Linked DNA regions of Homo sapiens. The protein of the gene in region 1 interacts with the protein of each later gene in a pairwise test. Each region holds a gene or a part of one and is shown in the gene's direction. Other genes may lie near its edges. The genes, in order: ANKRD36B, MAB21L3, GLIS2 and TNFAIP8L1.

The links.
Region 2: the proteins of ANKRD36B (region 1) and MAB21L3 interact in binary tests that used the Homo sapiens proteins (3 or more experiments, as listed by UniProt).
Region 3: the proteins of ANKRD36B (region 1) and GLIS2 interact in binary tests that used the Homo sapiens proteins (3 or more experiments, as listed by UniProt).
Region 4: the proteins of ANKRD36B (region 1) and TNFAIP8L1 interact in binary tests that used the Homo sapiens proteins (3 or more experiments, as listed by UniProt).

What each region holds. Positions count from the first base shown.
Region 1 is NC_000002.12:97,491,803-97,496,550, reverse strand, and holds the end of ANKRD36B (ankyrin repeat domain-containing protein 36B), read left to right. Parts: intron 1-3,604; exon of another isoform or gene 3,605-3,695; 3' UTR 3,696-3,888; downstream 3,889-4,748.
Region 2 is NC_000001.11:116,127,736-116,135,768, forward strand, and holds part of MAB21L3 (protein mab-21-like 3), read left to right. Parts: intron 1-409; coding exon 410-604; intron 605-5,396; coding exon 5,397-5,630; 3' UTR 5,631-8,033.
Region 3 is NC_000016.10:4,332,034-4,340,066, forward strand, and holds the end of GLIS2 (zinc finger protein GLIS2), read left to right. Parts: intron 1-181; 5' UTR 182-247; coding exon 248-419; intron 420-1,313; coding exon 1,314-1,486; intron 1,487-2,767; coding exon 2,768-2,944; intron 2,945-3,026; coding exon 3,027-3,160; intron 3,161-3,241; coding exon 3,242-3,360; intron 3,361-4,691; coding exon 4,692-5,491; 3' UTR 5,492-7,562; downstream 7,563-8,033. UniProt on the Homo sapiens protein: Can act either as a transcriptional repressor or as a transcriptional activator, depending on the cell context. Acts as a repressor of the Hedgehog signaling pathway. Represses the Hedgehog-dependent expression of Wnt4.
Region 4 is NC_000019.10:4,634,734-4,643,064, forward strand, and holds the start of TNFAIP8L1 (tumor necrosis factor alpha-induced protein 8-like protein 1), read left to right. Parts: upstream 1-4,782; 5' UTR 4,783-4,896; intron 4,897-5,283; exon of another isoform or gene 5,284-5,426; intron 5,427-6,218; exon of another isoform or gene 6,219-6,267; intron 6,268-8,331. UniProt on the Homo sapiens protein: Acts as a negative regulator of mTOR activity.

The sequences.
Region 1 (4,748 bases):
CTGAAGATTAGAAGCCAGGCATTGACTTCTCCTCTATAGCTGTGAAAGTTTTAGGTATCCTCTTCTTCCAGTATAATGCTGTTTTGTCTACATTGAAAATCTGTTATTTAGCATAACTGCCCTCATCAATGATCTTAGCTAGATCTTCTGGATAACTTGCTGCAGCTTCTCTATCAGCACTGGCTGCTTTACCTTGCACTTTTATGTTATGAAGATTCTTTTCTTAAACCTCATGAACCAACCTCTGCTAGCTTTAAACTTGTCTTCTGCAGCCTCCTCACCTGTGTCAGACTTCATAGAATTAAAGAATGTTACTAAGGCTTAGCTCTGGATTCAGCTTTGGCTTAGCGAAATGTTGTGGCTCATTTGATTTTCTATCCAGACCACTAAAACTGTCTTCACATCAGCAATAATACCATTGTACTTATCATTTGTGCATTCACTGGAGTAGTCTGTTTAATTTCCTTTAAGAACTTTTTTTTTTTTGCATTCACAGCTTAGTTTACTGTTTGATGTAAGTTGCCTAGCTTTCAGCCTATCTGAGCTTTCAACATGCTTTTCTCACCCTATTAATCATTTCTAGCTTTGTATTTAAATACTGGCATCATGGGGGCTAATGTGGCTTACAAAGTATAATTCATCTGGCAGATGGAACCATAGTTTGACACTACCAGTCTTATGTCGGGTTCAACCCAGTAATAAATCCAAGCCTACCCATTCTTCCCGGAAGGAGCTTGATTATGCATTGAATCAAGCTCCCAGAAGGAGCTTGATTATGCATTGAAATTCTACAACCTCCGTGGTTAGTGCCCAAGGAACTGTTTTCTTAAGAACTCTGCTCTGTGAGTCGACAGGATTTTGTATTTTTGAATGTATTTAGACCATAGAAAACAAAGAAGTAAGCATACAATGGGCCCACATTCAGAAGCTATCTCCTCAGGATCAGAGGCTGCATCCAGAGTGTGCATAGGTGTTTGTCACAGATCCTCTACCAAGCTTAATGGAGAGAGAGTGGGAGATAAATGTCCATACTAATCTTCATCATGTAGCTAGAAAGAACTGAAACACTCCTCCAGCCTTCTAACTTTCTAGCTACATCTGGATTGTCTGGCTCCTACCTTAACCAATTTCTGGTTACTGACAAGGCGTGGCACATCCTAAGTTCCAGGGAGCCACCAAAAACAGTCAATACTAGAGCACACAAGGACTTGAGAGGTACCTGAAGATCTCTGGCTGGAAAGTTTGGTGAGATCCTTTTCCTACATGAGGCCAGTCTTATCAAATGCACGGGAACCAACAGAGAGAGTCGAGGAAAAATGAAGAAACAGGGAAATATATTCAAAGCAAGAAAACAAGATAAATCTCCAGCACCTGAGTGAAGTGCAGATATGTAATTTATCTGACAGAGATTTCCAAATAATGGTCATAACAATAATCACTGAGGTCAAGATAGCTTTGCAAGAACAAGTTGAGAACTTCAAGAAAAGGAAAAACGTTATACAATAATGTCAAACAAATCATAGATCTAAAGTGTACTGTAACTGAACTGAAAAAATTTAATAGAGGTGTCCATTAATAGAATCTATCAGTGAACTTTGAGACTGGTCACTGGAAATTATCTAACCTGAGGATCAGAAAAAAAGATAATGCAAACGGAGTGAAGACAACTTTAGAGAGTTATGGGACACCATCAAGCAGGACCACTCACACATTATTGGCATGCCTGAAGGAGAAGTGAGGAAGAAAGGAACGGAAAAGTGTTTAAAGGAATAATGACAGAGAATTTATCAAGCATGGGGAAGAAAACAGAAAGCCTGATCCAGAAAGCCCAAAGGAAACCAAATAAGGTGAATCCAGGGACTCACAACAAGATACACTATAATCAAATTGTCCAAAGTTAAAGACAAAAAGAGAGTGATATTGTTTGCAAATTTGTACCCTCCAAATATTGTGTCGAGATTTGATCCCCAATGTTGGAGGTGGGACCTAGTGGGAGGTGTTTGGGTCATGGTGGTTGATCTCTCCTGGATAGCTTTTTGCCCTTTTTTCACTAATGAGTGAGTTCTCACTGCATTACACGAAAGGTGGTTGTTTAAAACAGTGTGGCACCTCTCCCCTCTCTTCCTACCTCTCTAGCCATGTGTGTCATACCCGTTGTCTCTTCACCTTTAGCCACAAGTAAAAGCCTTCTGGGTCCCTGACCAGAAGCTGTGCAGATGCCACTGCCATTCTTCTTCTACAGCCTGCAAAACTGTGAGCCAAACAAACCTCTGTTCCTTATACCTAGTCTTATACCTGTTCCTTATACCTTATTACCTAGTCTCAGCTATTTTTTTATAGCAACACAAAAATTTGTGTTTTTCCGTGTTGCTCTTTTCTGTGTTATTCTGTGTTGCTAACACAGAAATTAGTACCAAGGAGTGGGGTTTTGCTATAAAAACACCTGATAATGCAGAATTTGCTTTGGAACTGGGTAATAGGCAAAGAAGACAGGAAGATGAGGAAACTTGTGGAACTTAATTAGACCTTGGTTAAGTGGTCGACCAAAATGATAATAGGAATATGAACAGTGAAGGCCATGCTGTTGAGGTACATAGAATACAACTTTCAAGAAGTGACTGCACCATTTTGCATTCCCACAAGCAATGAATGAAGTTTCCTCTTGCTCCACATCCTTGCCAGCGTTTGATGTTGTCAGTGGTTCTAGATTTTGGTTATTCTAATACGTGTGCAGTGGCATCTCATGGTTGCATTTCTCTGAGGAAATATTATGTGTAGCCTCATTACATATGCTTATTTTCCATTTGTATAATTTACTTGGTGAGGTACTTGTTAAGGTCTTTAGCTCATGTCTTTTACTGCTCAGCTTTAAGAATACTAATATGTTTTGAATAATAGTTCTTAATCAGATACGTTTTGGCAAATTTTTTTCCATCTGTGGTTTCTCTTTTCTTTCAGTGTCTTTAATGGTGTAAAAATGTTACATTTTCATCAAGTCCAGCTTGTCAATTCTTTCTTCTATTGACTTCAACTTTGGTGTTTTTTCTAAAGGTCATCATTAAACCCAAGATAATCTGTATTTCCTTCTATATTATCTTCTATAAATTTTATAGTTTTTTGTATATTTATGTTGCTGATCCATTTTGAGTTAATTTTGGTGGGGGTGTAAGGTCTGCAATTTATTTTTTTTTTGCATGTGGATATCCAGGTATTCCAGCAGCCCTTCCTGAAAAAACTGTTTCATCATCATAATGCCTTTACTTTTTTGTCAAAAATTAATCGAATGTATTAATGTGTTTCTATTTGTGAACTCTCTATCTCATTTTATCCGTTTGTTCTTTCACTAATACCACACTGTCTCCATTACTGTAGCTTTAGGGTAAGTCTTGAAATTGAGTAGTGTCTGTCCTCCAAGTTTGTTCTTCTCCTTCAATATGGTGTTAGCTATTCAAGGTCTTTTGCCTCTCCATATAAACATTTTCATTTAGAGTAGAATTGCATTGAATCTATACATTGGAAAGAACTGACATCTTAATAGCATTGAATCTACTTATGAATACGGTACATATCTCTTTTTGTTTCATTCTTCGCTTTCTTTCATCAGATATGGACATTTCTGGAATTAAGAGCATTGAATCTACTTATGAATACGGTACATATCTCTTTTTGTTTCATTCTTCGCTTTCTTTCATCAGATATGGACATTTCTGGAATTAAGAGCCCCCTCTACATTGAGCACAAGACAGTGACGAATCCACATTCTTCAGCCAGAAAGTCACCTCTGAGAGCCAAATGTCTGACTATAGAAAGGAGAGTCAAAGAATGATAACGACATCTCAGGAAAATTGTGAAAATAATCAGCAGCCGGATGTGGATAACCCTTTCAAATTTCTCCAGGGCACCTGTCATTTCAGCCAATACTTGCCAGCTTGTGCCAAGGATGCTGGAGCTCCCTGGGATGAGTTTCCCAGGGGAGGAGCTGGCCGCCATCTTTGCTGTTTGGGTGACACAGCCATTCCAGCCTGTGGGCTTTGGACAGTGCAAACTGGTGGGGTAGAAGGGATCCCTAGAATAGCACAGCTGCTCTCCCAACATGTGCCCAGATCCTTTTTTTTTTTTTTTTTTTTTTTTTTTTTTTTGAGAAGGAGTCTTGCTCTGTCACCCAGGCTGGAGTGCAGTGGCATGATCTCGGCTTACAGCACCCATCACAGCCCTGGTTCAAGCAGTTCTTCTGCCTCAGCCTCCCAAGTAGCTAGGACTACAGGTGCCCATCACCACGCACAGCGAATTTTTTTATTTTTAGTAGAGATGGGGTTTCACCATGTTGGCCAGGCTGGTCTGGAACTCCTGACCTCAAGTGATCCACCCTGCTGGGCCTCCCGAAGTATGGGGATTACAGGCATGAGCCACCGTGGCCGGCCCCAGACAGAATCTTTAAGGGGATTCCCAATCTGTTCCTCCCAACCAGGGCCTCCAGCTACCCCACTGGTGTCTGGGGCTGAGAGGAATTTGAATTCTCCCTGGGAGGGAGTTCTGGAGTTCCTGCCCAGTGGGAGTCCTTCCAACTGGGGCCTGGGGGAGAGGATGGGGCCAGCTTTGGAGAGTCCCAAATGACTGGGGGTGGAAGGGATCCCCCAGCACATCACAACTGCTCTACCAAATAGTGGCCAGGCAGATTCTTTACACAGATCCCTGATTCTTTCCTCCTCTCTGGGTGGGACCTCCCACCTGGGGCCTCCACCACCCCA
Region 2 (8,033 bases), on another chromosome or scaffold:
AAAGTTGAGGTGTTACTAGATCAGCAGTTCTCAAAGTGTGGGCCCTGCAGCAGCGTCACCTGAGAACTTGTTAGAAATGCAGCTTCCCGAGCCCCCACTCTGGACCTGCTGAATGAGACCCTGTGAACAGGGCCCAGCAATCTGTGTTTTAAGAAGCCCTCTGGGTGATGTGATTCTGATGTATGCTCAAGTTGGAGAACTGCTGTAGGAGAGGAAGTGGGCACCATCTTCTAACTGTCCACATCCAAGGTGGCTTGTGGTCTCCCTGGCACCCCCTTCTCATCCCCACGTAGGATGTGCTGTCTGCCTGGTGACAAGTTCCCCAGACCAGCAGACTGCTTCAGAAATGGCTTTCTACACCAGTGAGCATTGTTCTTCTTATTTCCCAATATTTTTCTCTTTCTTCCAGTCGTTTGGATTTAACTTGTTGGCCTGTTCAAATTATCACTGGCAGCTGAGCTTCCTCCGTGCTGAGCAGGTGTTACTGGAACAGCTGGATGAAGATGGGGGCTGCCGTAGGAAGTGTTTTCAGGTCATGAGGCACCTGAAGGAGGACATCTGGTGCCCAGGGAACAGGCCGGTTATCACGTCCCACCATCTGCAGGTGAGTGTGGGGCAGGTTGGAGAAGACCCAGGGGCAGCTTTGGATAGGTCATTCTTCCTGTGGCCTCTGTAGGGCCTGGCCAGAGCCACTCAGAAGGGGTAGCATGTGTGAAAAATTCAGGATGAGGTTCTAGTATCTATATTTGCCATCCAACAAATTACTACGTATTATGGAAATATGTAAACTAGCACCATATGGGAGTCCACAACACCCCTGCCCAGGGTAAAATTTCCTCCCTCCCTTCCCTTTTCCAATTCTCTTCTATCCCACTTTTCCTCCCCTCTCACTTTTATTTTACCCACCAAACCAACCTGAGTGCTCACTAGGTGCCAGAAACCCTGCTGAGGTTCAGAAATGAATCACAAAATGTGGTTTGTGCCTCACACTTTGATGGCTTTATGTTTGCGCCAGTCTTTAAACCCACTGCAGCCTACGCACACCTCCTCATGCACACAGACCCACTAACACAGAGGGGACCAGGAAATGCAACACAGAGGTTACCACACACGTAGTGCCACACACTTCTTTCCAGGGTCCAAATCACCAGGCAAGGATCTTCCCTTGCTCTGCCAGCCCCTGCCTCTCCTTGCCCTAAACCCAACAGTACACATTCATTCATGCCTTCACTCACTCATTCAGCAAGTGTTTATTGAGATTACTCTGGGCCAGAGGCCTGCCCCAGTACCTGCTGTGGGCTCAACCTCTGCAGGCACAAAGGTGAACAGACACAGATGTGTTTCCTCACTCATGGCACTTCTGGTCTAGCATGGGAGATAGACATGGGTCAGGCAAGCCAGTGGGTGCGTGTACAATCACACAGTGAGGAAGCACTGGAAAGGGAGGAGTATGGCTCTGTGAAGGCTCAGAGCAGCAGAGCCTGACCTGGACTGGGCAGTCAGGGGGCCTCCCTGGAGAGGGGGCCTTTGACCACCCTCCCGACTCCCTCTTTCTCAAATTGTGAACCACACAGAGTGAAGTGTACTCTCATGTAGCAGCTCTGTGCAGCCTGCTGGAGTAGGGAGGTAGGAGACTCTTGCAGGACACCCCAGCCCAGCCTAGCTAGTGTGGGCTGTGAAGCCTAGCTTCAGCCCTCCTCCCTGGCCCCAGAAAGGATGGACTCCCTTTCTACTCAGGTAAGCACAAGTCCCTGGGGCAGTCACCTATCTGTGAGGTGCCTTCCTCACATACCTCTTCCTTCTCTCATTCGATGGACAAAACTGTCTTCCAGCCCCATGTTACTCTGTCTGCTCTAAAGTAACTTATTGAAGGACAGATACCACATTGATCTTGTCCAGCTGGCATGCTGACCTAACTCGATGTTCTTATTCATTGGGAGAAGGTGAACAAAACCCCCATTATCTCTCCCAATGCTTTGTACATAGTAGCGCATTAAATATTTGTTGAGCAAATGAATGAGTGGCTTCACATCTTACTCAACTTTTCTCTTTTTTTCGCACAAAATCACTAACCTTGCTTCACCTTCTTATCTTTCCAATAACCTGTCCATTTTGACCTGCGGAAGAATCTGTTAACATCTCATTCACATGCACTGGGGCTTTTCTCTGGAGTTCCAACATTCTCAACGTGTCCCAAGCACACTTCCCTAAAAACACGCAGGCTGTTCTCCTGGATGGAGGGCATGTGCTTGCAGAAGATACTTTGATTCTTTCTGTGGATTTAGCTTCTCTTGCTTTCCTTTATACAGGCCACACTAGAAGAGGCAGAGCTGAGACGCAAACTCAAGTCTATCTCATATCAAAACCTCATAACCTTAACGATTGACTTCATTACCTCTCAATTAAGATGGATGGAAATACCATTCGGTGACATGAATATTTCAGGCAGGATTGAATGGGGCCACCATGGATCTCCCAGCCATGGCTGCTTGCAAATCTGTACTCCCCACAAGGGCTGACTTCTATTCTGATGGCTCCTAAGTCACCTGGTGGATTTTAAGGCAACTCCTTAAGGATTCTCTGTTTCAATCCTCCCTGACCCACCTGTGTGGCACAATAGGGCATCCTCAAGGATGGGCATTTTTTTTAAGTGGGCTATTTCTGGAGTAAGATAAACAGAAAGTGCTAACTGCCTTTTTCTCTGGTCTTCCATCCTTAGTCCACAGACAGAATTATCTCCCATTTAGGCATCCCTGCCCTTGAAATGAATGTGGCTGGTGATAAATGTGGTGCTAGACACCATCCCAGATGATGACTTGAGTGTGCTGGATCCTTGCCAAATCTTCATTTTGAGGAAAGTGGAAGAGGTTGGGTTGCAAAACAGCATTAGGAAGCTGTGGCACTCAGCCTTGCCTCACCTTAAGTCTGACACTCTCTTACAAGGCCCTCACCTTCTCCCCAAAAAGGCTCTGCCCCAAGACTATTTCATGTGAAGCAAAAGCTTATCTTTTATTGCCTTATTTATTCCTAAAACCCACTCAAAATACATTGGCTTGCTTATAATGAGCTTAACTGCCCCAGTTTGCTTAGGGAGATAAAAGCTTAATTAACAAGAGGAATTAACATTTTTTCTGGTATCTAGGTTATCTTCGCTTGCATGAAATTATCTCTAACTCATTTATTCATAATAACGTAATCTAAATACATAGTTGCTATGAACTTACAACTGCTCTAAAAAATAAAGACTGTATAAAAATAACCCAATATCTAAACCATAACATTAATGGATAATTCATTAATTCACTTATTCAATAAATGTTTATTAACTTCCTCTCATGGGCTAGCCTTTGCTGGGTACTGGGTAGCTTAATAGTGAATAAAAATAGGCATCATTCACTGCTCTCATAAAGTTTATAATCCAGTAGGGGAAATGATAAAATTAATCACATAAATATAAAAACTACTACTGTTGTCGCTGCTTCTTATGAGAAGTACATGACTAAGAGAGTGTGCAATGGGTGTACTAGGGAAATTTGATCTGATGGACAAAGAAGGGAAAGAAGTGTGCCCTATGCAGCCGAAGCAGGATGTGCAAAGGCTCTGTGGTAGAAGGGAGCATGAAATGGCTGGTGTGGCTACATGAAGAGAGCAAGGGAGGACACAGGTCAAGATGAGTCTGGAAAGGAAGGCAGGGACCAAACCTTATAAACCACACCACATTAAGGATGATGTTTTTAGCTAACAAACAATGGGAAGACCTTGAAGTATTTTATTTTATTAATTTTTTTTTTGTTTTTGAGACGGAGTCTCGCTTTGTTGCCCAGGCTGGAGTGCAGCGGCATGATCTTGGCTCACTGCAAGCTCCACCTTCTGGGTTCACGCCATTCTCCTGCCTTAGCCTCCCAAGTAGCTGGGACTACAGGCACCCGCCACCACGCCTGGCTAATTTTTTGTATTTTTAGTAGAGATGGGGTTTCACCGTGTTAGCCAGGATGGGACCTTGAAGTATTTTAGATGAGAAGGGAAGTAGATGTATATTGGCAGCAGTATGGATGGTGATAATTTGGATGGTGGCAAGAACAGGGATGGGCTGATGAGATCGCTACTGCAGAGGTCCAGTGAGATGTGGAGGCAGTGTGGAGGGGGATGGTAGAATAATACTGGAGGTGAAGGTAAATGGGTAGACTCGAGAAATACTTAGACAAGAGGATTACAGGACTTGACTGGGGACGGTAAGGGAGAAGGGCGACTCCTAGGTTTTCGTGTTGCACAACTAGCTAGTTAAGCAACTCTGGAGGCAGATCAGGTTTGTGCAGGAAGAGCAGGGGTTCAGTTTGGGCATGTTGGGACTGAGATAACTTTCAGATACTCAAGAGATACACGATAAGCAGGTCAGAGGAGAAGTCTGGGCTGGAGACACAAATTTGCAAGTCATTCATATGTAGTGAGAATTAGAGCTGCTGTGGTGGAGGCAACATAGAGCTGAGGAATGAATGTAGACTGAGAGGAGAAGAGGGCCTAGAATTGAGCCTCCAGAAACTCCACTTCTCAAAGGCAGGCCAAGGAGTAAAAGCCTGCCAGGGAGGCGCTGTAATGCTAGGAGAAAAAACCCAGAGAGCAGATTGCTTGGAAGTCAAGTGAAGGATGGCTCAGGAGGGAGGGTGTGGGCGAGAGAACCAGGTCTGCTGAAAGGTCAGGTAAGGTGCAGGCTGACAAAGGCCTATTAGATTTAGAAAAGTGGAGATCACTGGGCCTTGACGAGAGGAGCCTTTGAGGATTAATGAGAGAAGAATCCATATTGGAGCAGACTGAGGCAAGAAATGGGAGGAGAGGAAATGACCACAAATAATAGAGCCGACTCTCCAGAGAAGCCTGGATTTGCAGAGGGAAGAGTGAGGGCAGGAGGCAGATGTGGGGTTGGGGTTGCAGGAGAGCTCTCAACTTGTGAAAAGCAGTTGAGGAAGAGGGTAATCAGTCATATACAGTTCCTGGAAGATGGGATCCAGGGCCCTGTGGAGGGATCAGCCCCACAGGCAGAAGAGGCAGAAGCAGGGAGGAAGAGAGGTGGGTGCCGCAGTAGGCAAGATCTGTCTGGTTTGGGAGGATGAGGGGTTCCATTTTCCCCGTAAAGTAGGAGGCAAAGACATTGCCTGGATTAGTGAACATTGGAAATGTTGGAGGAGAGTGAGGGAATAGATTAGGGAAGAGGTGCGGGAGACCAGCTGGTAAACTGAAGGCCCACCTGAAGTTGGGGATTGTGAATTCATGGTAGATCCAGTCTGCCCAGGCAACTCTTTTCTCCCTCCTTCCAAGGCCACATAAGCTCAATAATTGTTTCCAAGCTATCCTCCTCAATTGCCCGAAACAATGTCTGACAGCACTTCTCCCTTCCACAGACTGTGCTCTTTTGGACCTGCGAGAAATATCCCCACTTTAAAGACTGGCAGGTCTTCAGCAAAGCATTTCTGCGCCTGGTGAGGAAACTGCACAAGTGCGTGAGCCAGCACTTCCTGAAACACTATTTCGTCCGGAACAGCAACCTCTTTCAGTGCACCAACCCGACTGAACTGGACACTGTGGCCCAAAAGCTGGCCACCTTCCTGAAGAACCCCCAGATCGGCCCGCCCTGATGGTTGCCCCGGCCTGGGAGGCTCTTGGACATTTTATTCTGGCTTAACATTGTTCTTTGGATGGTTCCTCAGTCAGGTGCCAGGATCCTGCCTAGGAGAAAGGCCACGAATGGCAGCGGAAATTACATCAAACCAGAAACACTTCAGCAGGGGGAAAACTGTGCCCCAGGATGTCTGGCCCAGGCCTCCCTGGAGCCCAGCAAGCATTTCTGCCCTAGCTAATTCTCCTGGAGACAGCTCTCATCAGGCTTCCCCAGGCACAGATTTGGAACTGGTGACAGTTCTGAACTTAGTTTCCCTTGTTCAGGCTGTGATCGTCTCACAGTGAAGATGGAGACAGAACCCCTGGAAGTCTGGACATGAGCCTGCTGGCCAATACTGTGCCCAGCCCACTGATCATGGGCACATTCTCCTGCCATTTGTAAAATGGGAATGTTAACGTGCCTACCTCTGAGCAGGGCTGTGTGCCTATGAAACTGTGCTGGCGCCTTTTCAAGGGGAAGGCATTGGATCAACACAAAGTGTTCCTGGTTGGTTGAGTAGCTGGTGTTTGCATCCTGGATCGGTACCCACAGCACTGACGCAAAATTGCACCTGATGAGTTAGTGAGCCTGTGCTTCCTTGCTGCCCTCCAGCTTCCTTAGCATGTGGGTCAGTGGCTCCTGATGTTCTGTCTGCTTCGCTGGTATTCTCTAAGCAGGGAGGGGAATGGTTTTGATGATAAGTGTAAGTCAAAGATGAAAGTACAACTCTTGGCCTGATCCCAACCATAGCCCTCTCTTTGCTTCCCATGCCATGGGCCATGGATGGAACTTCCTTATATATTTATGTAAATAACCTAGTACTATGATCTGCATGGAGTGACCTTAGGTGTCTGTCACTGCTCAGTGTGTTCCTTTGCTCACTTCATTCACTCACTCACTCATTGACAAATAATGCTCATTAGGCACCGGGAACACAGCAAAGAGCAAAGTGGATGAGGACCTCCCCCTGGGGATGCCACCTAATGGTGGAGACAAGAAATGAACGACAGATAAACACGCACAGTTATTACAGATGGAAGCAAGTGCTTCAAAGGAAATAAACAGAATGTTGAAGTAGAGTCCACAGAAAGGTCCCCGAAGGATGAAAATGCAAATAGCTGAAGGGGAAGGAAAAGTGACCAAAGGCAGGCATGGTGGGGCTGGCATGAGTCAGAGCACCTGGCCTTGTAAAGCCAGGAAGGAATCAGTATTTTATTCTAAGATCAAAGGTGTGACATTTGGCCTCTCCAGAAGCAGAAGAGTATCACGATCTGACTGCATTTTAAACAATTGTTCTGGTAACTGCATGAAGAAGGTCTGGGGACTCACACAGGAGCTGGGCACTGAGTGCTCTTGAGCCACCCATTTGGAATTTCACAGAGGCCCACAAGGCAACATATTCTGTGTGGCACAACCGATCAGGAATTCTAGGAGTTCTCGGTGAGATCAATGGTTTTTTTCTGGCGTTTATGTAATGCTTCTCAACTCAAGGGGCTCCTTTATTACTTTTGAATGTTTTTGCCCAAATGTCTATACCAAAGATAAATTTCTAAAGCATGAACTACTGATTTTGTTTTCATGAAAATTCACATTTGAAAATGAAAATGATTACTTTTCAAAAGTACTGTAAACGGCAGGAAAGATCCAAAATTGACACCCTAACATCACAATTAAAAGAACTAGAAAAGCAAGAGCAAACACATTCAAAAGCTAGCAGAAGGCAAGAAATAACTAAAATCAGAGCAGAACTGAAGGAAATAGAGACACAAAAAACCCTTCAAAAAATTAATAGATCCAGGAGCTGGTTTTTTGAAAGGATCAACAAAATTGATAGACTGCTAGCAAGACTAATAAAGAAAAAAAGAGAGAAGAATCAAATAGATGCAATAAAAAATGATAAAGGGGATATCACCACCGATCCCACAGAAATACAAACTACCATCAGAGAATACTACAAACTCCTCTACGCAAATAAACTAGAAAATCTAGAAGAAATGGATAAATTCCTCAACACATACACTCTCCCAAGACTAAACCAGGAAGAAGTTGAATCTCTGAATAGACCAATAACAGGATCTGAAATTGTGGCAATAATCAATAGCTTACCAACCAAAAAGAGTCCAGGACCAGATGGATTCACAGCCGAATTCTACCAGAGGTACAAGGAGGAACTAGTACCATTCCTTCTGAAACTATTCCAATCAATTGAAAAAGAGGGAATCCTCCCTAACTCATTTTATGAGGCCAGCATCATCCTGATACCAAAGCCGGGCAGAGACACAACTAAAAAAGAGAATTTTAGACCAATATCCTTGTTGAACATTGATGCAAAAATCCTCAGTAAAATTCTGGCAAACCGAATCCAGCAGCACATCAAAAA
Region 3 (8,033 bases), on another chromosome or scaffold:
CTGAGGAGGCTGTTGGCTCTCCCCCCATGATAGCTGCCGGCCAGGTCGCTCGGAGGGTCTCCCTACCCAGGAGACAACCTCACACTGCCCCCTGCTCCTGCTCCTGTTAGACTGTCATGAGTACAGCCCGAGGAGAAGCCTGGGGTCTCAGTGCCACAGCACAGCTCCTGTCCTTCCCCAGGTTCCTGCGTGAAGACCAGCTGGGAGCCCACTGCCTGCTGCCACCTCCAACTCCGGCCCCCTCACCATGCACTCCCTGGACGAGCCGCTCGACCTGAAGCTGAGTATCACCAAGCTCCGGGCGGCAAGAGAGAAGCGGGAGAGGACGCTGGGTGTGGTCCGGCCCCGTGCTCTGCACAGGGAGCTGGGCCTGGTGGATGACAGCCCCACACCTGGCTCTCCAGGCTCCCCGCCCTCAGGTACTGGCCCTGGGCAGGGCAGGGGGACTTAGCCCTGATCCAGTCATGGTGACAGGGAGAATGGCCAAGTGTGTCCACCAGCATGTAGCTGCAGCCCCTCTCGGCTTCCGGTTCATGGGAAGCCCGCACGCTTGTCCTTCCATCCGCCCAGCATCGTATGTCTGCAGGGAGGTGGGAGCTGCAGTGCCCAGCTCACGTGGCTGGCACACGATGCAAACTGAGGCCTCTAGGCAGATCTGGAACAGAGCTGGTCGGGCAACCAGGCATTCAGAAGGAGCGGCAGTAGTCCCAGGACCTGCACCCTAGGCTGTGGGGTGGTGCCGCTGGCCAACCTGGGCAGTAGAGGCTGGGTCTGAGCCCAGGAGGTGCCTCTCAGGGATTCCCGGTGCTTGGGCCCAGGGTGGTGGGCACCACTTCTGCCCTGCCTCCAAGAGCAGAGTCACCCGAAAACCAGATTCACCGCTTGTCTGAAGGGGAAGGCTATGGGAGCAGCCCAGCCCGAACCTGCCACTTTACAGAAGGGAACACTGAGGCAGGAAGGGGCCTGGGAAAAGCTAGAAAGGTTCCTACCTGCCCGTCTGACAGGGACCCAGGGGCCCTGGGTTCGAGTCCTGTTCTGTTATTAACCCTGCGTGCCAGACCATTCCCGTCTGCAAAGCGGGCACTTCCCCCCTCCCCGGCTCACGGGGGCCAAGCTCTGGCGGCTGGTAAAGCTCAGAGGTGGTGGGTGGTGTCACACACCTGTCAGCTCCACAGGCTGCTCCTCACATTCGTGTGGTCTGGGGGCATGGCTGGTGTCTGCTCCCAAGGTCACAGTGGGGGTTCGGAGGCAGGAGTACCTGGCCCACTGGGACTCTACACTCCAGCACACCCTGAACTGTGCCTCTCCCTCAGGCTTCCTGCTGAACTCCAAGTTCCCCGAGAAGGTGGAGGGACGCTTTTCAGCAGCCCCTCTCGTGGACCTCAGCCTGTCACCACCATCTGGGCTGGACTCCCCCAATGGCAGCAGCTCGCTGTCCCCCGAGCGCCAGGGCAACGGGGACCTGCCTCCAGTGCCCAGTGCCTCGGTAAGGAGGGGTGAGAGTTCCGGAGAGAGGGGTGGACTGGTTTCCTGGGGTTGCCATGACAAAGTACCCCAACACTGAGTGGTTTAAAAAACAGATGTGTTACCCCTCATAATTCTGGAGGCTGGAGTCTACCTGGAAGGCTCTAGGGGAGAACCTTCCCTGCCTCTCTCCTGCCTTCTGGCAGCTTCTGGAAATGCCTGGCACTCTAGCCTGGTAGCTGCTTCACTCCAGGCTCTGCCCTGTCTTCACACGGTCTTTGTCCCTCTGTGTCCGAATCTCTCTCTGGTTTCTCTTATAAAGACACCAGTCATGGCCGGGCACGGTGGCTCACACCTGTAACCCCAGCACTTTAGGAGGCTAAAGTGGGAAGATCGCTTGAGCCCAGGAGTTCAAAACTAGCCTGGGCAACATAGCAAGACCCCATCTCTATTTATTTTTTTGAGACAGAGTCTTGCTTCATTGCCCAGGCTGGAGGCCAGTGGCCCGGATCTCAGCTCACTGCAACCTCCGCCTCCCGGGTTCAAGCGATTCTCCTGCCTCAGCCTCCCAAGCTGGGACTACAGGTACACACCATCACACCTGGCTACTTTTGTATTTTTAGTAGAGACAGGGTTTCTCCATGTTGGTCAGGCTGGTCTTGAACTCCTGACCTCAACTGATCCGCCCATCTCGGCCTCCCAAAGTGCTGGGATTACAGGCGTGAGCCACTGTGCCCGGCCTTTTTTTTTTTTTTTTTTAAACAGGGTCTAGCTCTGTCACCCAGGCTGGAGTGCAGTGGCATGATCTCGGCTCACTGCAACCTCTGCCTCCCAGGTTCAAGCAATTCTCCTGCCTCAGCCTCCCAAATAGCTGAGATTACAGGCATGTGCCATCACGCCTGGCTAATTTTTGTATTTTTAGCAGACATGGGGTTTCACCATATTGGCCAGGCTGATCTTGAACTCCTGACGTCAAGTGATCCGCCCACCTCAGCCTCCCAAAGTGCTGAGATTACAGGCGTGAGCCACCGCACCTGGCTATATATTTTTTTTAATTAAGAAAATAAAAATTTAAAACACACCAGTCACTGGGTGTTGGGCCCACCCTAATCTAGTGTGACCTCATGTTAACTTGATTACATCTGCAAAGATCCTAGTTCCAAATAAGGCCACATGCACAGGTAGGGGCTGGGGAGAAGAGGACCTGAATGTCTCTGTTTGGGGACACCATTCAGTCCACTACCGATGGGACGGGGGGCTCTGGGCCAGCAGGACCTTGACTAGCCCTCCCCTCGCACCCCAGGACTTCCAGCCACTGCGCTATTTGGATGGTGTCCCCAGCTCCTTCCAGTTCTTCCTGCCCCTCGGCTCCGGGGGGGCCCTGCACCTGCCTGCCTCCTCCTTCCTTACCCCTCCCAAGGACAAGTGCCTCTCGCCAGACCTGCCCCTGCCCAAGCAGCTGGTGTGTCGCTGGGCCAAGGTGAGTGGGGGCCAGCAAGAGTAGTGTGGAGTCTGGGGCAGGTCACCCCGCATGGGCTCAGAACACTTCCCATCCTCCGCAGTGTAACCAGCTCTTTGAGCTCCTGCAAGACCTGGTGGACCATGTCAACGATTACCATGTCAAGCCCGAGAAGGATGCGGGGTACTGCTGCCACTGGGAGGGCTGCGCCCGCCATGGCCGAGGTTTCAACGCCAGGTGAGGTGGGGGAGAGAGGGGTAGAGGGAGGACTGGGGTCTCCAGTGAGCTGAGCCGTGCCCCCCGCCCTCCCTGGAGCAGGTACAAGATGCTCATCCACATCCGCACACACACCAACGAGAAGCCACACCGCTGTCCGACCTGCAGCAAGAGCTTCTCCCGCCTGGAGAACCTGAAGATCCACAACCGGTCGCACACAGGTAAGAGGCCGGGGCCGGGCGGCTTGGCCCATGAAGGGGGCGCTCAGCTGAGACCGGCTGGGCAGGTCCCCAGGGGGAGGGGACTGTTAAGTAAATCCCGGGCCTCAGAGATAAGGGTTGATGTCATCGCCCAGGGGTCCCTTTTCCAATGCAGTTTGCTAGGGGAAGCATCCCCTGGGGGTCAGACCCCCACCCAGCACCTGCTCTTGGAGCACCAATGCCATTTCCTGGTTCCCGTGGGTATCTTCTGACTAATGCCACCTCTGTGATCGCAGAGGCCAGGTCGGCTTCACTCCTCACTACAGCCCAGGCCCATACCAGGACAGCTCTGGTTGTCAGAGCCACAGACATAATTTTACATTTCCTAATCGCTGCATAAAACACAGCAAAAATAAATGGGTGAAATTAATTGTAATATGGTTCGTTGACCCCGGTACATCCAACGTGTTATCAATTCATTATTAAAGACAAATCAGTGAGATATTGAAGTTCTTCATTTCATGACAAAGCCTCAAGGAGCTGATGTGTATGTTTTTTCCTGGTGTTTATTTCACCCTGGCAGCACATCTCCAGGTGGAGAGCCATGTATCAGGAGGTCAGTCACTACATGTGGCCCCCTGCTCTGGCCAGGGCAGCAGAAGATGCCTGGTGAACCTTCAGCCATTTGTTGAGTGAGGGCAGTAGCGCCCAGGCAGCACTCCCTGTGGCCAGGCCCACGCTGGGCGCCTCGTGCCAGGATGTGATCTCCAAGGCCATGGTGTCTTTTTTTTCTTGAGACAGACTCACTCTGTCACCCAGGCTGGAGTGCAGTGGCATGATCTTGGCCCACTGCAACCTCTGCCTCCCAGGTTCAAGTGATTCTCCTGCCTCAGCCTCTGAGGTAGCTGGGATTACAGGCACCTGCCACCACACCCAGCTAGTTTTCGTAGTTTTAGTAGAGACGGGGTCTCACCATGTTGGCCCTGCTGGTCTGGAACTCCTGGCCTCAAGTGATCTGCCTGCCTTGGCCTCCCAAAGTGCTGAAATTACAGGCGTGAGCCACCGGGCCCGGCCTCCAAGGCCATGTTCTGCTGCTGAAAGGCACATCCTCTGTAGCAGAGGGTGCAGGGCGAGGCTAGGCAGAGCTGGAGTCAACCAGGCTGAGTTTTCAGCCTCTGTGCCCTGCCTGGGGGCAGATCTCATGCCATGTGCTGGGGATGCCCCCTGCCCCCAGAATTGGGGCATCTATGTTCCCAGGGAGTGCTTGGCCCGGGGAAATGTTGAGTGCATGGGGTGAGACCCAGGAAGGGGAGAGACCCCTCATGGCGGCACTGCACTGCACCACCCTGCAGGTGAGAAGCCCTACGTCTGCCCCTACGAGGGCTGCAACAAGCGCTATTCCAACTCCAGTGACCGCTTTAAGCACACGCGCACCCACTATGTGGACAAGCCCTACTACTGCAAGATGCCCGGCTGCCACAAGCGCTACACGGACCCCAGCTCACTGCGCAAGCACATCAAGGCCCATGGCCACTTTGTGTCCCACGAGCAGCAAGAGCTCCTGCAGCTGCGCCCACCCCCCAAGCCGCCACTGCCCGCCCCCGACGGCGGCCCCTATGTCAGTGGGGCCCAGATCATCATCCCCAACCCAGCTGCCCTCTTTGGAGGCCCTGGCCTGCCCGGCTTACCCCTACCCCTGGCCCCCGGCCCCCTTGACCTCAGTGCCCTGGCCTGTGGCAACGGTGGGGGCAGTGGGGGTGGGGGGGGCATGGGCCCTGGGCTGCCAGGCCCCGTCCTGCCTCTCAATCTGGCCAAGAACCCGCTGCTGCCCTCGCCCTTTGGGGCTGGCGGACTGGGCTTGCCTGTGGTCTCCCTCCTTGCTGGCGCAGCTGGTGGCAAGGCCGAGGGGGAGAAGGGGCGTGGGTCGGTGCCCACCAGGGCCCTGGGCATGGAGGGCCACAAGACGCCCCTTGAAAGGACGGAGAGCAGCTGCTCCCGGCCAAGCCCCGATGGACTCCCCCTGCTGCCAGGCACCGTGCTGGACCTGTCCACGGGCGTCAACTCAGCTGCCAGCAGCCCAGAGGCGTTGGCCCCTGGCTGGGTGGTCATCCCGCCGGGCTCGGTGCTGCTCAAACCGGCTGTGGTGAACTGAGCCCATCCTGCGGACAGTTGTGGTGCCCCCCCGGCAGCTCCCGGCACTGCCCCCGACGAACGGAAACTCTTCTGTGAAATAGCAATAATGTCCTACTGCCCGGGCAGCCCCAGCCCAGCCCGCCGGGAGCAAGGATGGTGCTAGGTCATTCATGGCTGGCCTCCCAGCCCCCGGGTGGGGACCTGGCCTGTCATGCAGGGAGAGCTGTGCTCCTGGGTGCTGAAGCCTCGCTCCTGTCTGTCCCCCACCACCTGGCCCTCAGCTTCTGAGAGGCTTTCCCCTGCCCGACCTCCTCCCGTTTCCCTCTCCCACCCTGGCACCTCCCTCACCTAGTGACCACCCATGGCAAGTTGCCCTCTCCCAGCAGAGGGGGTGGGTGGGGTGGCATCTGCCCTCCCTGCTAGCACCAGGCTCCCCCTTCCTGAGAGGAGCCCCCAGGGACCAGAGGCCTGCCCTTCCCTCCTAGGCTTACCCAGCCCCTGCCCTGGGGGCTCCTTGGACCCCTTTCCCTCTGACCCTGCCTCCAGAGGGAAAGCAAGACAGATGCAGGCCCCTGCAAAGCCCCAGGTAGAAGCATGCCCCCCAGGACAAGGCGCCTCCCACTAGTTAGGAGGAGGCCCGCTCTGCAGCCGCCGTCCTCACCCCAGGCCAGGCCTGCAGTACCAGACGGGATAGCTGGCCACTCCACCCCTGCACCCCAGGGTCTCCTCCCTCTACCTTTTGGGGCACCCTGGGAGCGTGGGAAGCAGGTCCGAGGGCCCCTGAGCTGGCAAGGGGAGGTGCCAGGCCAGCTGTGGTGCCAAGATACTGAGTGACCTGGGCCCTGGCTCAGGGAGCATGTGGGGCCAGGCCCAGCGCCCCGTCTTCCTCCTTCTACCCCCGCTGGGCCTGGCCTGGGCAGCGCCCCCTGCAGAGGCCTTTGGGTCCTTGGTCCTGTAACAGGAAGGGGGAGGCTGGCTGGGGACGACCGACCACAGGCTGGGACACAGCTCCTGGTCTGGGGGCTCCAAGTGACAGCATGCAGGGGAGGGGGCTCCCAGTCAGTGCTGTGTTGGGAGCTTTCTGGAGGCTGTGGACTGAAGGCCTTGAGGGAAGCAGTGGCTGGAGGAGGGTGCTGGACCCATGACACGTTGCTTCCTCTGGCTTTTCCCTGCTGGGCCGCTTTCTCAGAGGCACTTCCCCACCCCTAACACCCAGTGGGCCCCCCCAGGTTCTGTGCCACTCAGAGGGACCCTGGCAGGGGCCAGAACCACTTAAGGGTGGTGCTGGAGGGCCTTGTGCCCCAGTCCCATCCCAGGACGCCCTGAGGGATGGACGCAGCCATGCACCCCCCATCTGGGGCCTCTCCCTGCTCCCTCTCCCACCTGGCAGCTGGGAGTTCTGGCTTCTAGGCCTGCCCTGTCACCAGGCCTCTGAGTGGCCAGGCCCTTCCACCTCCCCATCTGTAAAACGAGGCAGCTGCCCGGACAGCCTTGGGGTCCTTAGTGGCCCTGCAGGTCCTCTGGCAGCTCTGCTGACCCCACCCTCTCCCGGACTGCCCTTCTGTCCCAGAGGGGTCACCCTGACCCGGCCCACCTTGCCACTGGGCTTTGGACTCCAGCCCTGACAGGGCCCAGCCACACTGGCTCTGCCCCTCGAAGGGGCTATGAGCAAGGTAGGAGGGAGCTGGTCTCCTTTCTTCGGGCCCCACCCAGGCCCTGAGCACCCCCCACCCCTGTGAGGGCCCCAGGCCTTAAGTCCCTGGCGGGGTCATGGGTTTGCGACTTGAGCAGAGCGGAGGAACAGGGCACTGGAAGGCCGACGAGCTCAGCATGCGACTCGGTGACGGACCAGGCTCGGCAGGGCCGGTGTACTTTTTGTGGTTGTCATTGGTGTGTTGTTGCACATTCCAGGACGTCAGTATTTTAACAGGTTCTAAGTGCCTTTCTATCGTAGCTTATGTTTTCCTCCTCTTGGCTCCATTGCTGTTAGCATAGAGTTTTAAAAAAAGAGATAAGCTAATGACTATAACAATATATTCCTCCATGGGAGAGGAAGTTTATAAAGAAACAATAAAAGTGAGTTGCAAAGATGGCTTGTATGTCGTGGATGTGCCAGGAACCCGGCCCTGACATGAGGCCACCACTGCCCTGAGCCCCTGCAGGCCTGATCCGGGCTTTCTCCCCGACCCTGCAGGTGCCCCTCCCTCTCAATCTGCCGCTTAGAGCAGGAACTGGAAGGTTGGGAAGGAGGTAGGTGCTGAGGGCGCACAGGTGACAGGAACTGAGACAGAAGATTCCAGGCGGAGCATCCCAAGGTCCAAGTCCTCAGCCCACTACTGCCCGCTGCGGCTTTGGAGAGTGGTGGGCAAAGGCCCTTCTCCCCCCAGCCACATTCTGGGGTACTGTGCCCAGATTACTGAGGTGCTAGGTTCAAACCTGCCCCAGGGACAGGGTGGCTGCCGACAAGAGCTCTGGGGCCAGGAGACCGCCACCCCGTGGGAGGGGCAGGGGCGCTATGGGAGGGAGCCTCACCCTGGCACGGGTGCTGTGGAAGCAGGAGC
Region 4 (8,331 bases), on another chromosome or scaffold:
GGGCTGGCTCTCATCAGCCCACACTGAGTCATGTCCTGTAGCAGCTGCTCAGAACCACAGACATATCTCCCTGTTTTGGGGCGTTCTCTCTGCCCAGAGCTAAGGTTCCTGGGAGTAGTCCTTTGTCAACGCTGGTTGAACATGAGGGGATAAATACCCTAGCTTTTCTGATCTCTGGGTGCGGCGATTCTCAGCTGTTTTCTTTCTTTTTCCTTTTCTTTTTCTTTTTTTTTTTTTTCAGACAGAGTCTTGCTTTGTCACCCAGACTGGAGTCCTGTGGCACAATCTCGGCTCACTGCAACCTCCCAGGTTCAACCTCCCAGGTTCAGATGATTCTCCTGCCTTAGCCTCCTAAGTAGCTGAAACCACAGGCCCTCACCACCACGCCTGGCTAATTTTTGTATTTTCTGTAGAGGTGGGGTTTCACCATGTTGGCCAGGCTGGTCTCGAACTGACCTCAAGTGATTTGCCCGCCTTGGCCTCCCAAAGTCCTGGGATTACAGGCGTGAGCCACCGCGCCCGGCTGCCGGTGTCTTATTGAGGCCATCAGACAATGCAAGAGTGCTGAGTCCCAGCACCCTGTCCTTGCAGTTTTACAAATCTCTGAATCTGCTACGATCACTGCATCCATCTTCCAGATGCAGTCACTGAGGTTCCAAAAAGTGAAGTTTCCTTTCCTGCCCGGGATGACTAAGGACGCTCTATCCCCAGGGGCAGCAGAAGATCGGGCTGCCCTCTCCCCAAACACACCCACCCACCCACCCACAGGGGCACACACGGGCACACACGCACCGTCTACCTCCCCAGACACCCGGCTGACACAGGCTGGCGTCTGCACGGCTGACACTTGTAAATCCACCCTCCTTCGGGGGCAGGCTGGCTCCTTCTCTGGCAGCAGGAAGATAGAGGGAGTTGGTTTAGTGGTTGGGGGGAAAGGAGTGCGCCCCTGACCCCATGCCCAGCCCCCGACCCCAGGGAGGGTGACAGCCCCTCCCTCTCTTCCAGTGACCTTGGGAAAGTTCCAGGAGGCCCCCGGGCCTGGACTTTGAGAGGTGAGCGCTCCAGCAAGATTCGCTCCCCTCCTTCTGTCCCTGCTCTGGGCCCGCCCACCCACTCCCTTTCTCAAGCGGCCTTGGAAAGGGTCTTGCAGAGACAGACAGATGGCCTGGGGACAGATGGCGGACGTGTAGGAGTTACCACTGGGAGAGGGGTAAGGGGGAGGGGAGTGCGTTCTGGCCCCCAAGACGAGTCCCACAGGCTCCTGCAGAACAGAATAAGCCGCCTCCTTCAAGCCCCTCAACTGGGATATCATCGTCCCCCCGCAACCAGGATCCCATCACCCCATAAACGGAATCCCATCCCCCATCCCAACCAGGGTCTCATCATCCCCGCAAACGGAGTCCCATCGACCCCACATTCAAGGTTCCATAGCTCCCCCAAACGGGATCCCATGGCACTGGGCCGGGGCAGAGGCCCGGAGAAGAGGGTCGCTAGCTGCAGGTTGCACAGCCCGGCAGGGTGCGAGGCCTGGCCTGGGGGTGCGGGTGACTCTGGTGGGTCTAGGCTCCGCGGGGAGACTTGGGCCTGGAGACCCCGCCCCGCACGCAGATCCCGCCCGCCCCGGCCGCGGGTTCCGGGGAAGCGAAGGCGCCGCCAGCCCGGGCTGTGGGCAGAGCGCGCCCTCTGCCGGGCATGATCGGAAACGGCGCGGCGGCGACTCCCGGACCCTCGGGACTCCGGACCCGACTCCCACCCGGCTGAGCTTTACCGGGTTATAGAGCCCCCAACTCTGGATCGATCCCCGACCTCCTAAGGAACCGCGACACTGGGCTGAGCTCCCGCCTTGGGCTAAACCTCAATCCCAGTAGAGCTGGGACCTGGGCTGAGACCCCAACTTTGGATAGAGCCTCTGATCTGTCTTTGAGCCCTGGTCCTGAGCCAAGCCTCAAACTCCAATAGAGTCTCCATCGACCTGAGCTCCCAACTCAGGGCTGAGCCCCCCTCTAGGCTGAGGTCTGATACGGAATAGAGCCTGCGACCCCTTCTAAATCCCGACTCTGGGCTGAGCCTGGACCCTCGATAGAGTCTCCAACTCTAGGCTGAACCCTAACCCTGGGCTGCACCCTTACTGTAGACAGAGCCCAATCCCAGCAGAGGCCCTATTCTCACTAAGCCCCATCACCCAGTAAGCCTGCATTCCCGGCCAAGATCATCCCTCCCCCACCCCTAACACCCACTGAACCCTAGCCCTCCCGAGTCCCAACCTTCTTATCTGATACAGAAAAGAGACCAGGTGTGGTGGTTCTTGCCTGTAATCCCAGCGCTTTGGGAGGCAGAAGCAGGAGGATCGCTTGAGGCTAGGAGTTCGAGACCAGCCTGGGCAACATAGTGAGACACCCCCTATCTCTATTTAAAAAAATAAAAATTAGCCGAGCTTGGTGGTGCACACCTGTGATTTCAGCTACTTGGGAGGCTGAGGCAGAAGGATTGCTTGAACCCAGGAAGTTGAGACTGCAGTAAGCTGTGACTGCACCACTGCATTCCAGCCTGGGTGACAAATCGAGACCCTGTCTAAAAAAAAAGAAAGAAAGAAAAAAGGTGAAATCATGCTAGGCTCAGATGCCTCCAGTCCTCCTGCCCTGATGGGGAGACCCCCTTGATGCTGGGGTTGCGAGAGGAGCTGTACACACCACACCAAAGTCAGACCTAATCAGGTCCTAATCCCATCTCTGCCTCATCTGGCTGTGTGGCCTGGAACCTATCCCTTCCTCCCTCTGGGGTTCCATTTCGTCATCTGTGAAATGGGACAGTCACTCCTGACTCTACCACCTTGTGCCTGTGTGACCTCAGGCAAGTTACTTCCTCTCTCTGGGCCTCAGTCTCCTCCTCCAAAATGAAATAAGAAGGTGTTTTGTTTTGTTTCTTGAAACAGAGTCTCGCTCTGTCGTCCAGGCTGGAGTGCAGTGGCGCGATCTCGGCTCACTGCAACCTCTGCCTCCTGGGTTCAAGTGATTCTCGTGCCTTAGTCTCCCAAGTAGCTGGGACTACAGGCGTGCACCACCACTCCTGGCTAATTTTTTCATATTTTTGCTTTATTTTTTATTTTTTGAGATGGACTCTTGCTTTGTAGCCCAGGCTGGAGTGCAGTGCCGCGATCTCGGCTCACTGCAATCTCTGCCTCTGGGGTTCAAGCAATTCTAGCACCTCAGCCTCCCGAGTAGCTGGGACTACAGGCGTGCACCACCACGACCAGCTAATTTTTTTTTTTTGTATGTTTTATTTTTTGAGATGGAATTTTGCTCTGTCGCCCCGGCTGGAGTGCAGTGGCCCGATCTTGGCTCACTGCAACCTCTGCCTCCAGAGTTCAAGCGATTCCCCTGCCTCAGCCTCCTGAGTAGCTGGGATTACAGGCATGTGCCACCACACCCGGCTAATTTTTGTATTTTTAGTAGAGACGGGGTTCCACGATGTTGTCCAGGCTGGTCTCAAACTCCTGACCTCAGGTGATCCGCCCACCTCGGCCTCCCAAAGTGCTGGGATTACAGGGGTGAGCCACCGGGCCCAGCCAATGAGATATTTAACTTACTTTTGCCTCCTGAGGCCTGTGCCTCGGTCTTCCTGAATCCCGTGTGCAGGTCAGGACACACAACAGGCCCTCAACAATTTGTTGTCTGGCTTCCTGGAGGAAGAAGCAGCGAGGTTGCTATGGGCTCCCTAGGCCCTAGCTGCAACCGGGACCCAGAGTTGGGCTGCAGGGCGGAAATGGTGCTGCAGGGGACCTGGGAGCAGCTCCAGGGCCTGGTTCCCAGGACTCACAGCTGCATCCTCCCCGGGGGACCCCAGCTGGCGCTGCGCAGCCGGGAGGCTCCTGTGTGTCCTGCAGGCTCATTCCTACGGAAATCGAGGCTGGACCTGGGGATCCTCTGATGAGGTCTCCAGGAGCCCTCCACCTCACCCCAAAGATTCATCTATAGCCCCACAACCCTGGGTTAGATTCATCCCTTCTTGTGGCACAGAACTCTGTATTTTTAAAATTTTAACTTATTTTGATCTTCTTCTTTTTCTTTCTTTCTTTTTTTTTTTTTTTTTGTAGAGACAGGGTCTCCCTAGGTTGCCCAGGCTGGTTTCAAACTCCTGGGCTCAAGGGATCCTCCTGCCTTGGCCTCCCAAAGTGCTGGGATTCCAGGCGTGAGGCACCACACCTAGTTGGAATCTGCATTTTAAAATGGACTCTCAGATCTTTCTGACGCGAAGGGTTCCCCGAGGCCGTACTTTGAGAAACACGCTTCTGCCGAAATTCCTATTACCCAGGCGGGTAAACTAGCCCCAGAAGGAGGAAGGGGCCCGTGCAGAACCACGTGGTTGGTCTGTTTTGCCTTTTGGCTCTCTGGTCTCTTCCTGTTGGTGTCTCTGTGCCTCCCTCCCCAGGTTCTCTGTCTGTCTCGTACTCTTATCTCTTCCCTTTTCTGTGGCCGGCACCCCCACGACGGCCTCGCCCCCGCATCCGGGCCCCTTCGCGATTCCGGAGGAATCCCCCAGAGCCGCCTGACCCCGCCCCCAGGCTCCGCCCCTTCCCCCCACTTCCCCCCCGTCGCAGTGCCCTGCTCCCATTGGCCTTTTCGTACATTGCCCGCCCTGTCATTGGCTAATCCGGAGCGCTCGGCCCGCCCCCCAGGCCTGGCAACTCTCCGGTCCCTTCCGCGCGGGCGGGGCGAGTGGAGGGCGTGGCCTGCCGAGGGGCGAGGCGAGTGGAGGGCGGGGCCGCGCTGCCCGCCCCGCCCCGGCCCCGGCCCCGGCTCCGGCGCTGCTCCCACCGCCGCGGCAACGGCCCCGGCCCACGGAGGCGGCTGGACGGACCCCCGACGGTTGGACGTACGGACTCTGCTTCGAGAGTAGGTGAGCGAGCAGTGCCGGGGCGCCCCCCATTTCAGCGCATCTCGGGGGCCACCTGGCCGCCCTCTGTCTCTCCCGCCCCTTAATGCTTCTGCACCCCACCGCCTGTCCGTCTACATTCCTGCCTCAGTTTCCGTCTGTCTCTCTGTCACTCTCGCTGTATAGGTTAGGGGGAGACAGATTGAGTCTCAATTGCCCCCCTTGGCGTGGGGCTCTGCTCTGGGACCAGCACCCCCATCCCCCATGTGGACTCTAGTGGACTCTGCCCCCTTTAACTGTAGGGCCGCAGGTGCTCAGGCCAGATTCCAGAACCCTGAGGGCATTCCAGGCGGTGGGCAGCTGGGCCAGCCGTGCGGAGGTGGGCATGACTGTAGCTTCTAGCTAAACCAGGCATCGGTCCAGGCATCGGTGGCGGGGAGCCAGGCCTAGGCCAGCCCGGGCCCACCCAGACTGGCCCCTAATGAGCTCCCAAGTGGCCTGTGGGGACTTGGCCTCAGTTTTGCCAGCTGTGAACTGGGACCGTCGCTGCTAAGGTAATTGGCAGGTGATCTGAAGGACACCTGCCGCCTCCTGGCCTTTTCTGTGAAGTCGAACTAGGCCCATTTCCTGGGATGGGAAACTAAGGCCTAGAAAGAGGCCAATGCTTCCAATGTTTGTCCAGGGAAGTGGGGACAGAGGCAGGACAGAATCTGTTTTCTCTGCATCCTCACATTTCCCAGCACCTTCTCTATGGAGGGGGGAAGGGCTGGTGGAGGAGCAGCCCCAGGTGTAAACAGGCCGCCAGAGTTTATTTCCTGAGCCAGTCCCAGCTCAGCTGGAGGCGATGAACGCCTTGGGAGGCCCCAGGGGGGCCAGCCCAGTGGTGGCGGAGCTTGGACCAATCTAGGTTTGAGCTCTGCCACCCGCATGATATCTTGAACCAGTTTTTCAATTCTGCGGAGCCTCAGTTTCCTCATCTGTAAAACAGGAGTGGGTCGTAACTCCCCAAGTTGAGGGCTGCTGGGGGATCAGATGCAGGAATACAGGCCCTGCTCATAACCTGCCTGACTCTCGCTGTGGCTCTGCCCCAGTCACACTGGCCTCCTCCTGTTTCTCCAACACCCCAGGCGAGGTCCTCTCTCAGGGCCTTTGCATGGGCTGTGCCCTCTGCCACTACGGCAGGTCCGAGGGCGCCAACTTTGAAACATAACAAGCTCCCTGGATGGGCCGGACCCAGGACCTGCACAGGCAAGGGCTGGGAGGGGCAGAGGAGGGGCCGCTCAGGGACGCTGTACCTATGGAAACCGTGAACAAAGGGCTGTCTCCAGCCACACAAACACCTGGGTGAATCGGGCACTGGCCAGAGGCTGGAGCAGCCTGGGATACAGGTGGTGGGTGAGTGCCTGGACCCCTGCAGGGAATATGGGGCCGGGGGGGGGACTTGAACCCTGCTCCAATGGTGGGGTGGCTCTGCAGACGGGTGCAGGTCTGAGGCCCCGCGGTACGGCCCCTCCCACTGTGTGGCCTTGGACCGACGGTCAGGTGCCCCCAGAGCCTCAGTTTCCTCATCCCCGTTCCCCCAGGGGTCAGCCCAGGTGGGTGAGGGGTCTTTTGATTGCTTGACAATTCAGTATGGTGGGTTCCGGAGGCCTCAGTGTCCCTGTCTGTCCAATGGGGCCACGAAAGGGTGCCTTGAGGACAAAACTCCAGCCGTTGACAGGGGAACACTCCTCCCAGAGAGACGTCAACGCTAAAAAATGACTCACACTTGCCCAGGTACAGCTCAGGTGTTACAGACGGGGAGCAGGGCAAGGAGGCAGAGCGAGAGGCAGGAACGGCCCAGTTCCACAGCATGCCTGCCCCTTCCCAGCATCTCCCGACACCCCTCAGCAGATGACCTCCCTGGAATCACACCCGCTCGAGCTTTGACGCAGGGACCTCTGGCAGAGTTCTTGGGATCTTGTAAATCCCCAGCTTCTAGGCCTCAGTTTCCCCATCTGTCCAATGGGGCTGGTCATCTCCTTTTTCTTGTGGGGCTGAGATAACTGTGGGGAGGGAGGGTGCTTTGAGGGGTGGGGGAGATTCAACAAGATATTGTTAAAAGCCCGAGGAGGGGATTACAGGACACAGTACTTCTAGAAGCTTCCTAAGGCTTCGATCCTTCCCCTCTGGGGTGGGCTCTGGGAGAGACGAGACTTGAACCCCAAATGTGCCATTGACTAGGATGAGGAAAGGATTGCACTAGGTTAAAGGCTGGGTTCAAATTCTGATTCTGCCACATCACTGCTTTATAAACAGGCAAGCTCCTGACCCTCTGTGACTCAGTTTCCTTATAACCAAAAACTTGCAGGTCCATCTAGAGAATTTCCCAGCCTGGGCAACATGGTGAAACCCTGTCTCTACTTAAAACAAAGAAAAAAAAATTAGCCAGGTGTGGTGTCGCAGGCCTGTAGTCCCAGCCACTCTGGAGGCTGAGGTGGGAGGATCACCTGAGCCCAGGGAGGTTGAGGCTGCAGTGAGCCGAGCTCATGCCACTGCACTTCAGCCTGGGCGACAGGAGTGAAACCCTGTCTCAAAGAAAAAGAAGAGAATTGGCTGGGCGCCGTGGCTCACGCCTGTAATCCCAGCACTTTGGGAGGCTGAGGTGGCCGGATCACCTGAGGTCAGGAATTCGAGACCAGCCTGGCCAAGAGGGCAAAACCCTGTCTCTACTAAAAATACAAAAATGAGGCGGGCGTGGTGGTGGGTGCCTGTAATCCAGCTACTCAGGAGGCTGAGGCAGGAGAAACACTTAAACCCAAGAGGCAGAGGTTGCAGTGAGCCGAGATTGCACCACTGCTCTCCAGCCTGGGTTGACAGAGTGTGAGACTCCATCTCAAAAAAAAAAAAAAAATTAAAAATATACACATAAAATAAATAAAATAGATGGGGGATCTGGGAGGGCTTCCTGAGGAGGGGCCATGTAAACCCAGACCTGGATGACAAGAAGGAAACAGCCATGTGGAGACCTGGGAGAAGAGCAGCTCAGGCAGAGGGCACAGGTTGTGTAAAGGCCCTGGGGCAAGATGGCGCCTGGCATGGTAGAGGAGCAGCAAGGAGGCCCGTGGGGCTGGAGCAGTGAGGAGGAGGAGAGAGGGAGGAGGGGAGGGCAGGGAGGGGACAGGGCAGGGTGCGCAGGATCTTATGGGCTGCCAGGAATACTTGGCTTTGACCCCAAGGGAGGTGGGAGCCATGGAGGGTGGTGGGCAGGGGAAGGATGGAACCTGACTCAGGTACTCACAGGCACCCATTGGCTGCTACAGGGAGGACAGACGGGGGGCATGGGGATAGATGGTGCTGAGGGACGAGGGGACCAGGATGGAGGCTGTGGGGGAGATAAGAAGTGGGTTGCGTTAGGCCAGGCAGGGTGGCTCATGTAATCCCAGCACTTTGGGAGGCTGAGGCAAGTGGATCACCTGA